3 linked regions of the Homo sapiens genome follow. The protein of the gene in region 1 interacts with the protein of each later gene in a biochemical or structural test. Each region holds a gene or a part of one and is shown on either strand. Other genes may lie near its edges.

Region 1 (3,753 bases):
AAGTGTACCATTCAATGGCATTAAATATATCCACAATGTGTAGCCATCATCACTACCCATTTCAGAAATTTTTCATCCTCCTAAACAGAAACTTGGTACCCATTAGACAATAACTCCCATTCGCCTCTCCCTCCAATCCCTGGTGACCTCTATTATACTTTCTCTCTCAAGGAATGTGCCTATTCTGTGTACCACATATAAACTGAATCATACACTATTTAGTCCTTTCTGTCTGGCTCGTTTCAGTTAGCATAACGTTTTCAAGGTTCATCAATGTTTCAGCGTGTATCAGAACTTCATTCTTTTTCAAGGCTGAATAAGTCATCTGTAGCTATATACCATATTTTGTTTATGCATTCATCTGTTAATGAACATTCTGGGTTATTTCTACCTTTTGGTTATTATGAATAGTGCTACTGTAAATATATGTATACAAGTATCTGAGTTCCTGCTTTCAGTTATTTTGAACATCTATATCAAAGCGGAATTGCTTGATCATGTGGTTATACTATGTTTAACTTTTTGAGGAATCATCAAACTGTTTTTCCAAAAAGTCTGGACTATTTAACATTGCCATCAGCAACGCATACGGTTTCAATTTCTCCACATCTGCCAACAATTACTTTCCTTTTTTTTTATAGTAGCCATCCTAGTAGGTATTAAGTGGTATCTCATGATTTTTTTTTTCATTTCCCTAAAGACTAGTGGTGTTGAGCACTCTTTCATATGCTTATCCACCATTTGTACAGTTGGCCTTCCATATCTGTGGGCTCTGCATCTGTGGCTTCAACCAACCATGAATTGGAAATATTCCAAAACAAATTTCATCTGTATTGAACATGTACAGACTTTTTGTCATTATTCCCTAAACAATACAACACTATTTAGATTTATGTTGTATTAGGTATTATAAGTGATCTAGAGATGACTTAGTCATCTCTAGGATGACACAGGAGGATGTGCATAGGTTATATGCAAATACTGCATCATTTTATGTAAGGAACTTGAGCATCCTTGGATTTTGGTACCCAAGGGGGTCCTGAAACAAATCCCCCACAGATACCAAGTGGATAGTCATTCTCTTGGAATGTATCTTCTTTGGAGAAATGTCTATTCAAGTCCTTTGCCCTTTTTTGAACTGAACTGTTTGGGGGTTTTTCGTTCTTGTAGTTCTTTACATATTCTAGAGATGAATCCTTTATCAGATATATGAGTTGCAACTATTTTCTCTCAATCTGTGAATTTTCACTTGCACAGCGCTTTTAACTCTTGAAAATTATGCTGCTTCTATTATTTATGTGTATCCCGATCTCTTGCCCTCGTGACCCGCCCGTCTCAGCCTCCCAAAGTGCTGGGACTACAAGGCGTGAGCCACTGTGCCTGGCCATCTATGTGTATCTCAAAACAACCTTGTAGGATGTATACTGTCTCCACTTTACAGATAAGAAAACTGAAATCCAATCAAAGATAGCACACTCCAAAGATTGCTCCAAAGACAGCACAACAATAACAAACTTGTAGTTGTTATTGCTGTTAGTGTTATCCCTTTGAATAATAGAGAGTAACAGAAGCTGCTTCAAAAAGGTCTAGGACTGGTGGGAAAATAAGAGAGCAGACCCCCAACAGAGGTTGCGAGCAGAGCCAGGGATCACAGAGTTTTATCTGCCCTCGGTACGCTGATTTCCAAAACCCAGCCTCATATTCTATACTCCAAAGCGCACTGCCAGGTGGGCCAACTCCAGCCCCCACAATCCGATGCCAAGGCCACTTCTTGCCACTTCCTGCCCGCCTCCAGCCCGCCCCTAACAAGCTAGCGCATGCGCTGTAGGACTATTTGCGCGCCGTTCCCCCCGGTGAGCCTGCACACCGTGCTTCCGGCGCGGAGATGAACTTCCACATGCCCCGGCGCTTGTTGATGACGTAACTTCCGGTTGCTGTGCTGAGTCGGAAGTGGGAACCCTTCGGCCGCTGAGATTCTGTCGTGTCGTCGCTGCTGGCACTTCAGGCTCTGGTAAGACAGGCAATAGCTTCAGGGGACGGGGTCGTTGACTTTGCGTTGTGATATTTTCTGCTGGTCCAATGCCACTTCAAGCCTGTTCACTCTTATCTTCTCCAAATTCCTTCTCCTATGCTTTGCTAACCAGGGACCTTCTCCTTCTTGAACTTCGACCCTGTCTGATTTGGAACCCCTTACAGTGCCCCAGCTTCTGATGTCTCTTTGTACATTTCTGTCCCCATCTTTGCCAAGCCCCTCCTGGAAGAGGCCGGAGCGCTATCATTGCATTATCTTTTGACTTAACTTTCTCTAGAACGTGCCCCGGGCGGGTGGATCTCCCTCCTTCCCGCGAATCCCTTATGGAGCATGGAAGGATAAAATATAAAGAGTAGATAACAAATAGGCAGATGCCAAGAAGATAAGATTAATCGTGAGTCGTAAGCAAACCAGTTCAATGCATACGTCAGGGTGTTGATAATTCTTAAGGCAGGTGATGAGTTCACCACAGATAACTCTTGGGGCACTCTGCTTCATGTTTCCTTGGGTTTAGAAGACACTTCTAAAATTGAGTGACCATGCCTCATGACCTTATATTTGATGAGCCTTCCTTTTAGGATCAGTTTTATGCCCTGACAGCAAGCATGTGTTTAGTCTCGCTGTCATTTACTGTTTTGGTCTCACGTGGAAGCCCACCTGCGATAAAATGGGATCCAAGAAGGACTGCTGTCTGCTTTTTGACTTGAGATCCTTCTAGGCTGCAGATAGATGTGTTGATGGAATTTGTTGCCACATTAGCATGGCCTGATAGTGTTAGGTGAAACATACGACAACGAAAATTGTTTCTTAATTTCTATTTTAAATTGATATTTTAATTTCTATTTTATATTGATATATGTATTATTTGCCAGGACACAGACCTTATGGGAGTATGATTTGATAGAGCTTGATTTTGACGATCCCAGTTTTACAAAGTGTTCCAGATATTTCTGTTGAAAAACAATACCAAGTCTGATGTTAACACACTTGTGTGTTCATGAGAGCTGACAGTGGTCTTAAAGGATTAGTGGTACTATTCATAAACAAAAGCTTGTATTAGGAGGAAGTGACAGAATTTTGTAGGACAGCTATTATAGATATAGATCTTTGCAGCAAGTGTATCAGAGTGAAACTTGTTTTCAAGGAGGATATATTTTAAAAGAATCAAATCCAAAAGCTTCTAAGGTTGGTAGCTGTACCATCCCAAAGTGTCTGACAACAGGATAGTGTTGTATCTCTGTATGGCAGTTGAAAATAGGAAAAAAAATACATACATATATGTATGTATATATGTGTGTGTGTGTGTGTGTGTATTTTTTTTTTTTTTTTTTTGAGACAGAGTCTGGCTCTGTCACCCAGGCTCTGCTCTGGAGTGCAGTGGCACGATCTCAGCTCACGGCAACCTCCATCTCCCAGTTTAAAAGTGATTCTCCTGCCTCAGCCTCCCAAGTAGTGGGATTACAGCCTGGCTAAGGTGTGGTGGTATGCGCCTGTAATCGCTTTTAGTGGAGACGGGGTTTCACCACATTGGCCAGGCTGGTCTCAAACTCCTGACTTCAAGTGATCTGTCTGCCTTGGCCTCCCAAAGTGCTGGGATTACAGGCATGACCTACTGCGCCCGGCGCTGAAAATAGGAGATTATAAATCCCGAATGACATTATTGAATATTAAACAAAATATTTAGGTTTCATTTTATCGGACCTTTAGAGTGGGTGATTATC
Region 2 (3,753 bases), on another chromosome or scaffold:
TGTGCTCGGCACACACACCGTTTTGTGCTCACATGTTCACAGAGCACTTGCATGCACACACACACACACACACACACACATACACACACCATACTCACCTGGACACTCTCCTCCAGTCCACAGTCTTCTGACGCAAGGTGACAGGTGAGCTGGAGGCCCTCACTGCTGGGGCAGCCGTGCTTTGTGTCAGGCAGGGCGTGGTGAGCACACAGCACAGGCCATCAGCCACCTCTGAGGAGGGAAGCAGACAGCCGGTCAGGGACCCTGGGGACGCCTCAGCCAGTGTGGGGTTCAGGCCTGAGACACTCTCCAGTGCAGCTCCCTGGCTGCTGCCATGGGGAACTGGGCCTGAGATTTCAAAGGGGCATGGTAGGTGGTGACAATGCTGAAAGTCACGCGCCCAGCTGTTTGAGAAATGTAAGCGTGCCCTGGTATACTCTGCACTTAGCCAGGCATGGGCAGAGAGAGAGGTTTAAGATCCAGTATCAACCAAGCTTGGGTTTGAATTTTAGCTTTACCCCGATAGTAAATTATCAAGAACGTCTCTGAGCTTTCCTTTCTTCAACTGCAGAATGAAAGAAATGAAGCAACAAGTGAGTGCCTGCAGAAGCCGCAGCCTTCCAGGGTTTCCCGCAAATGCCCAATCCATTAACCTCACAGGGTGTGAGAATGGGGCTGCATACAGCGCTGATCCCCCCAGTTGTGCATTTACAATGGAACAGGTGGACTAAATAGATCTCTAGGAAGAAAGATAAAAGAAACAATGAAAGAAGGAAGGAAAGGAGGGAGGGAGCAGAGGAGGAATGAAAGAGGGCGAGGAGGAAAAGCAAAAGTGAGAGGGAGAAGGAGGAAGAGGAGGAGGTGAAAATAGCACAAAAAGTAGAAGACACAGGAAGGGAGGGAAGAGAAAACAAAGATAAAGAGGGCAAAGAGAATGCAGACAAAGAATGAAGACAATCTCTCTTTCACTCTAGAAGCTCACGCACAAAAAGAATAAAAGTTAAATAAACCCGTTTCTTTTTTCTCTTGCATGAAAATCTCTGTATAAAATGTCTGACTCTCAGGATCCCCCATCTTTCCAGGCACATTACGATGTAGCTTCCGTCTCTTGGAAGGCTTCTCCCTAGCCCATGTTATCATGAGAAAGACTTGATTCTGCTGTACTCAGCCATCTTAGAGATTGAGGAAATTCTGCACAGTCTTACTCAGGCTGAAAACCCCAGTGCTTCTCCTGTGCCCTGGGGGGAGATGATGTGGTCAAGGGGGTGAGGTGCCACTGGCCTCCGGCAGGGCTAAGCCACCCCTGGCCTCAGAGCCAATCCACCACCAGGTTTTCGACAGCACGTCACACCTCTGACAGGCCCCACTTCCCATCGGGTTTATGGAGTGCTCTCTGGGGCATCCTTGCCAAAGAACAAAAGGAATTTGTAGCAGAAGAAGCACACTCAGTCTGTCACAGGGCGGGCAAGCCAGGAAGACCTCGTTTCATGGTTTTCAGTCCGACTTCAACTGTGAACTCAAATGTCCACCCACACAGGTGCCCTTGGAGAAATGGGAGGTGAGACCATGAATTTAGAGGGAGATTTAATCGGGTGGGAATCTGAAATAATGACCTGTCATGGGTTGGAAATTGAAATGACCTCCCAGGATATGAGGCGAGGAAGATGAAGTCAGATGCAAAGGCTGGAGAGATCAGCTGCAGTGTGCAGCACAGGCAGGGGACACTCCGTGAGTGTCCTTCCTTAGACAGGTTAATACTCAGGGTGAAAAATACATTTTGACAAAGAGCAAAAGAACCACCACTCATAAGCACATAACATGAGCCCAGCACTGAGCTAGCCTCGTACCCTGGATCTCATTGAGGCCTTGATCAGCTTGTGGTCAGTTTTTTTTTTTTTTTTTTTTTTTAGACGGAGTCTTGCTCTGTCTCCAGGCTGGAGTGCAGTGGTGTGATCTTGGCTCATTGCAACCTCTGCCTCCCAGGTTCAAGTGATTCTCTTGCCTCAGACTCCCGAGTAGCTGGGATTACAGTTGCATGCCACCACACCTGGCTAATTTTTTGTATTTTTAGTAGAGATGGAGTTTCACCATGTTGGCCAGGATGGTCTCAATCTCCTGACCTCATGATCCACCCACCTCAGCCTCCCAAAGTGCTGGGATTACAGGTGTGAGCCACCACACCCGGCTGTCAGTGTTTTTATACCCATTTTGGGGAGGGAAAAACTGAGCATCCCGAGATGAAGTAACTTACTCAGGGCCGTAGAAATGTGACCAAAATCAATCTTATTGACTCATTCTAAAAGCAACTCATTGCCTCTTAAATGAAGAAGAAAGACATCCTCCAGCTGTCTCTTGGGTTCAGACCCCCTGGTCTAATTCACCTCTGTCTACATGGCTCATCAGAATGCACACTCCTCTGCACCTTTAGGGTCCAACAGCTCTATATTGAAGGGTTCCTAGACCCTCAAGGTCCCCAGCCCTTGATTTTCCCAGCCATATTTTAGAATTCATGTATGCCCCATGCACTCTGTTCTCTCAGTAACCACCATGCATGGTATACTTTAGGTGCCACATTTTTCACATGCATCTTTTTTTTTTAACTGGACTAGTGGCAATCCTGTGAAAATTATTGCATTTTAATCCCCATGTTGTAAGTAAAAAAATTGAGCTTCCAAGATGCCAAGTAATTTGCCTAAAGGCATCATGATGAAAATTATAAGCAACCTGTTGCTAGATGTCAATTCAAACCCCTGGTGCACAATTCCTCTCATTCTGTGTCTTTTTTTTTTTTTTTTTTTTTTTTTTTTTTTGTGAGATGGAGTCTTGCTCTGCCACACAAGCTGGAGTACAGCAGCACTATCTCAGCTCACTGCAACCTCTGCCTCCTGGGTTCAAGTGATTCCCCTGCCTCAGCCTTCCGAATAGTTGGGATTACAGGCGCCCACCACCACACCTGGCTAAATTTTGTATTTTTAGTGCAGACAGGGTTTCACCATGTTGGTCAGACTAGCCTCGAACTCCTGACCTCAGGCGATCCGCCCACCTCAGCCTCCCAAAGTGCTGGAATTACAGGCATGACCCACCATGCCTGGCCCATCTGTGTCTTTAGAGTGAATCCAGTGGAGATAAAAGTGGCCATGTGGCTCCCACTTGGAGATTCTCAAGGGGCATAGGAAACAGTTCCGGTTTTTACCCTTTTCAGTTATTCACAGAGGTGAACAGATGACTGTAATCCATTGAGTGGTTCGATGACCAGGAACATACTGCGGGAAGGCGCCAGTGCTGCACTGGGGTGAGATATTCCCCATGGTCAAGCAGCGGCAGTTAGATTTCGGTATTTTTGGCCTGGTAGCCTCATGGCCTCATGGTCCCTAGAAGCTTTGCTAGGACAGCATCCTTCTCATGTTTGCTTTTGTCTATGCAAAACTTATGGTCTCCACACCCCCTCCGATGGTTGTTATTAAAAGCCAAATACCACAACCAACCTTTTCTCATAACCAATATAAGTTGGCTGTTTCCAGGACTCCCTTCCTCTTTCGTTTTTACCTGGCTGCTAAGTTTTCGGATATCACAAGTAATATGTGTTATCATTTATTTTGCATCTGCTATGTGACAGGCTATGCTGAACGCACTACATGAACGATTGTGTTTAATAATCACCTGCTAGGAGCCCATATTCACCCACCTCCCATAAATGGGGACCCCAAGTTCTGAGGGGTAGCTGACCTTGCCCAAGGCCTCACAAGGTGCAAA
Region 3 (3,753 bases), on another chromosome or scaffold:
CCCCAGGAATTGGAATTCTGGTAATTGCACCAGGTTTCTCAGGGTTCGGTTCCCCCTAGAAACACAGGTGGAATTGCTTCAGTTTGTATTCTATGCCAAAGTATGCCCCCAGTTCTAAATATGGCAGGCTTGGTCACTCTGCTGTTTCTTACTTCAGCAGCACCTCTGGAACCAACCTTCCCCTCTCTCCACAAACTTAACTGCCCTTTTCTCACCCTCTAAGGAGACCTCCTGGCATGTGTGTTCACAGGAGCCCAGGGAGCTCCTTGGGAAGAAGGCAGGGGTCTCTGTGGAGTGTTTCCAGGAGGGTGTGGGCTGTTTTCTGCTCCTCACCTTCCCCAACAGTGAGCAGCTGTCAGCACGAAGTCGTCTCGTATCAGGAAGCCACCGCACCTCTTCAGAGACTTCTGATCCCAGATCATAAGATAAGCCATGTAGGGGCGGGAGTGGGGCTTGGCCTCATGTCCCCCGATGATCTCCCCTGAAGGAAAAGTCTGTCTGCTTGTGGGCACCCATGGAATCTGCTGGGTGGGCACCTGCTTAGTGGCTCCAGAACTCCTGGGCATTTGGGAGCCTGGGATAGCCTGGAGTTGGGAGTGGCCTGGAGGAAGGGGCTTCAATTTCCTGCTCTGAAAAAGGGAAGAACAGCAGACTTTGGTCTGTAAATCTTTCTTCCATATGTAGTTGAAGGCGAGCATACCTGTCTTAGGGACAGTGAAATCCCAGAGGCTCCTGATCATTCCTCTCCTGACTTTGCTTTGTTTCAGGTGAGTTTCCAAGACCCTTATGAGTCCTGTGGTGTCTAGGATAGTGCTGCTTTCTAATGGCCAGGGTGTAAGTGGAGGGATCTAGATACTGTCATATCCTGTTTCCTAGAGCCTGACATGTAGTGGGTGCCCAGTAAATGTTCATGGCTGCATGATGGACTGGCTCCAGTTAGCCTCTGGATGAGGGCTGGTAGAGCAGTGCTGGTGGAATTCTAGAAAGCAGGGAAGCTGGGGCCTGCCGTAGTGCCTCATCCTTGGAAAGAGGGGAGCCACCAAAGGCCAGGGAAGAAAAGCAGAGTTGGAGAATGGGACTGAGCAAACACATTAACAGTGTTCTGAGGACAGTGATTGTACCAATTCTGCTGTCAGCTGAGCTCTGGGTTTCTCTCCTAAGTAGACAGTGAGAGAAGCACCTGTCTTATCCCAGAAACAGAAGCCAGGCCTACTCTAGAATAATTTAATATTTCTCTTTTCTAGTTTCCCATCCTCTGCCATTTACTTCTAGGAAAGTCCTACTCTCCAGGTGACAAAGGTGGGCTCTGGGGAAGGGATAGTACCCACTGGCTCTTCTTGAGAATGGCCTGCTGCTCTGCCATTCCTGCTGATAGCTTATCCAGCATCACACTTGGGGGGTCTTGGTAGAATGGGAGCTGGAGTTCAGAACATTCCTGGTAGATAGATGGATCAGGAATGTGGAGAAAGGGCAGGAGACCTGTGGGATGGGGTTGGGCCCCCGAGGGTGGAGACGGTCACTCACCTGCATCTGCCCTGGGCAGCAGGAGGAAGGCCAGCAGAAGCAGGATTGGTTGCATCTTCTCAGGAAGGCTGCCCTGGTTGGAGCTGCTGTTGTTTCCTCCTTGCTCTCTTTTAGCTCTTGGGAGAGGAAAGAGGTGGAGCAGGCTCAGTGACTTCATGTTCCCCTCTGGTTTTGTGGTGTCTCATCACAGATTTTCTGTAAATGCTGCCCACCCCCACTGCCTCTGCCTGATGACGTCCTCTGGGTGCTTGTGTGAGAATCATGCAGTGACCACATCATCACCCACAGCTGATGACTCAGAGTGGACCACCTATTCAGCCCAGAGCAGGAACCCAAGCCTATGAAGTGAATTGTAGGATGTGGTATCAGCCAGTAGAGGTACTGGAGCACCAGAAACCTGAGTTCCCAGTGATAGAACCGCCAATGCCTCATGGCCATGCTGCTAAATCCATCAGGATAGTTTCTTTAGCAGGTATGTGTTTGAGCCCTTCTGTTGTGCTAGAACCAAGCATGTTGGAGATGTGTCTCCTTCACTTAGAGAGCTGACCATCTGGTTGAAGAGACGGAAATGCCAGGAGCCAGAGTACAGTTTGGGGAGGGCTATGGTAGCACAATACACAAGGCAGTAACAAAGCATGGCCACCATCTACTAGACCCATCTAGCAACCCATTTATTATCATAGCTTCCTTTCTAGAGAATTTCTAACATCCCTTATTTAGTTACAAATGTTTAGTGTGAGAGTCCACCTCTTTTCTGAATGCTTTCAATAAAAGTCCTGTACTTGACATTTTATTGGGCTAGATTAATGAATTGCTAGGAGTCAAATCCACTTTGGGTAGGCTGGGGTCAGTCTACTCAAGCCACTAGAACCAAGAATGAGAAAGGGCTGGTTCTCTAAAGGACGTTTGTGGTGCTAAATTGCTGATACCATATGAAGTGAGGAAGCATGCCAGGCAGCCAAAGATCAGTAGTTGTGTTGTTTAGTATTCTGTCTCCTGTCCAGAGAGCCACACTTCTTACATAGCAGGCTCAGCACATAACAGGCTCACAGTAAACATTTGCTAAACAAACTACACTAATGCTATCATTATAATGGATGTGAAAGATTGTTGTTTCTGAACAGCCCGTGCCCAATTCTGTTAAAAGACAACTAAGTCTCTCTACATGGTTCGATTCTTGTGATTTGTTTCCACCTTTATATTTTCTGTGAGGAAATTTTTCTATGAGGAATGGTATATCTCAAAATATAGAATTCCAGTGTAAACGTCTTCCTTGTCAATAGCAAGCCAACTACATTTATCAAACTTCTATTTTTTGAACCTAGCTTGCCCCATAGTAGACGTTTTAAAAATAATTTTTTCTGATTATAGTCATAATATATGTTTGTTAAGAAAATTTGGAAAGTAGGAAGGGAAAATATCACTTTTTAACCTGTCTCCCACAGACTGACTGTTACCATAAGCAGTGTGTTTTAAATACTTGGGATCACATTGTACATACAATGCAATTTATTTTATCCTTGATTAACCCTACAAATTAAGCATTTTCCCCATGCTCGTAGAAATCTTAGTCAATACAACTATAGTCTTTCTTTCCTAGGCATTAAAAAATTTAATATGCAAGTAATTTTTAAATAATTTTAGCAAAGCGAAAATAATAAACATTACCTAATTTCTCATCATTCACTGATAACCATCTTTAATGTCTTGAAATATGCTCTAGCACATTTTTTCTCATGTAATATCTGCATTTTTTAAAATTAAAAGGGGATTATGCTAAACATAAGTTTATGACCCATTTAAAAAATTGAGGTAAAATTCACATAACATACAATTAACCATTTTAAAGTATTCAATTCAGTGACATTTAGCACATTCAAAATCTGCAACCACCACCTCTGGATATTTCATATAAACGGAATCACACAATACATGACCTGTTGTGGCTGGCTACATTCACTTGTAATAATGTTTCTGAGATTCATACAAGCTGTAGCACATGCCAGTATTCGTTCTTTTTAATGGAAAAATAATATTCCCATTGTATGTTTATACCACAAGTTATTTGTTCATCTGTCAATGGACATTTGGGTTGTTTTCATCTTTTGGCTATTGTAGCTAATGCAGCAATAATAAGCATTTGTGTACAAATTTCTGCATGAACAATATGTTTTCAGTTCTTTTGGATATATACCAAATATATATACTTTTGGAATTTCTGAGTTATAC

The links.
Region 2: the proteins of UBE4A (region 1) and SLA form a complex in vitro, tested with the Homo sapiens proteins (one study listed by BioGRID).
Region 3: of the proteins of UBE4A (region 1) and GZMB, one has a biochemical effect on the other in vitro, tested with the Homo sapiens proteins (one study listed by BioGRID).

What each region holds. Positions count from the first base shown.
Region 1 is NC_000011.10:118,357,664-118,361,416, forward strand, and holds the start of UBE4A (ubiquitin conjugation factor E4 A), read left to right. Parts: upstream 1-1,936; 5' UTR 1,937-2,011; intron 2,012-3,753.
Region 2 is NC_000008.11:133,039,900-133,043,652, forward strand, and holds part of SLA (src-like-adapter), read right to left. Parts: intron 232-3,753; coding exon 99-231; intron 1-98. UniProt on the Homo sapiens protein: Adapter protein, which negatively regulates T-cell receptor (TCR) signaling. Inhibits T-cell antigen-receptor induced activation of nuclear factor of activated T-cells. Involved in the negative regulation of positive selection and mitosis of T-cells.
Region 3 is NC_000014.9:24,632,582-24,636,334, forward strand, and holds the start of GZMB (granzyme B isoform 1 preproprotein), read right to left. Parts: upstream 1,610-3,753; 5' UTR 1,580-1,609; coding exon 1,525-1,579; intron 768-1,524; exon of another isoform or gene 521-767; intron 495-520; coding exon of another isoform or gene 482-494; coding exon 334-481; intron 1-333. UniProt on the Homo sapiens protein: Abundant protease in the cytosolic granules of cytotoxic T-cells and NK-cells which activates caspase-independent pyroptosis when delivered into the target cell through the immunological synapse. It cleaves after Asp.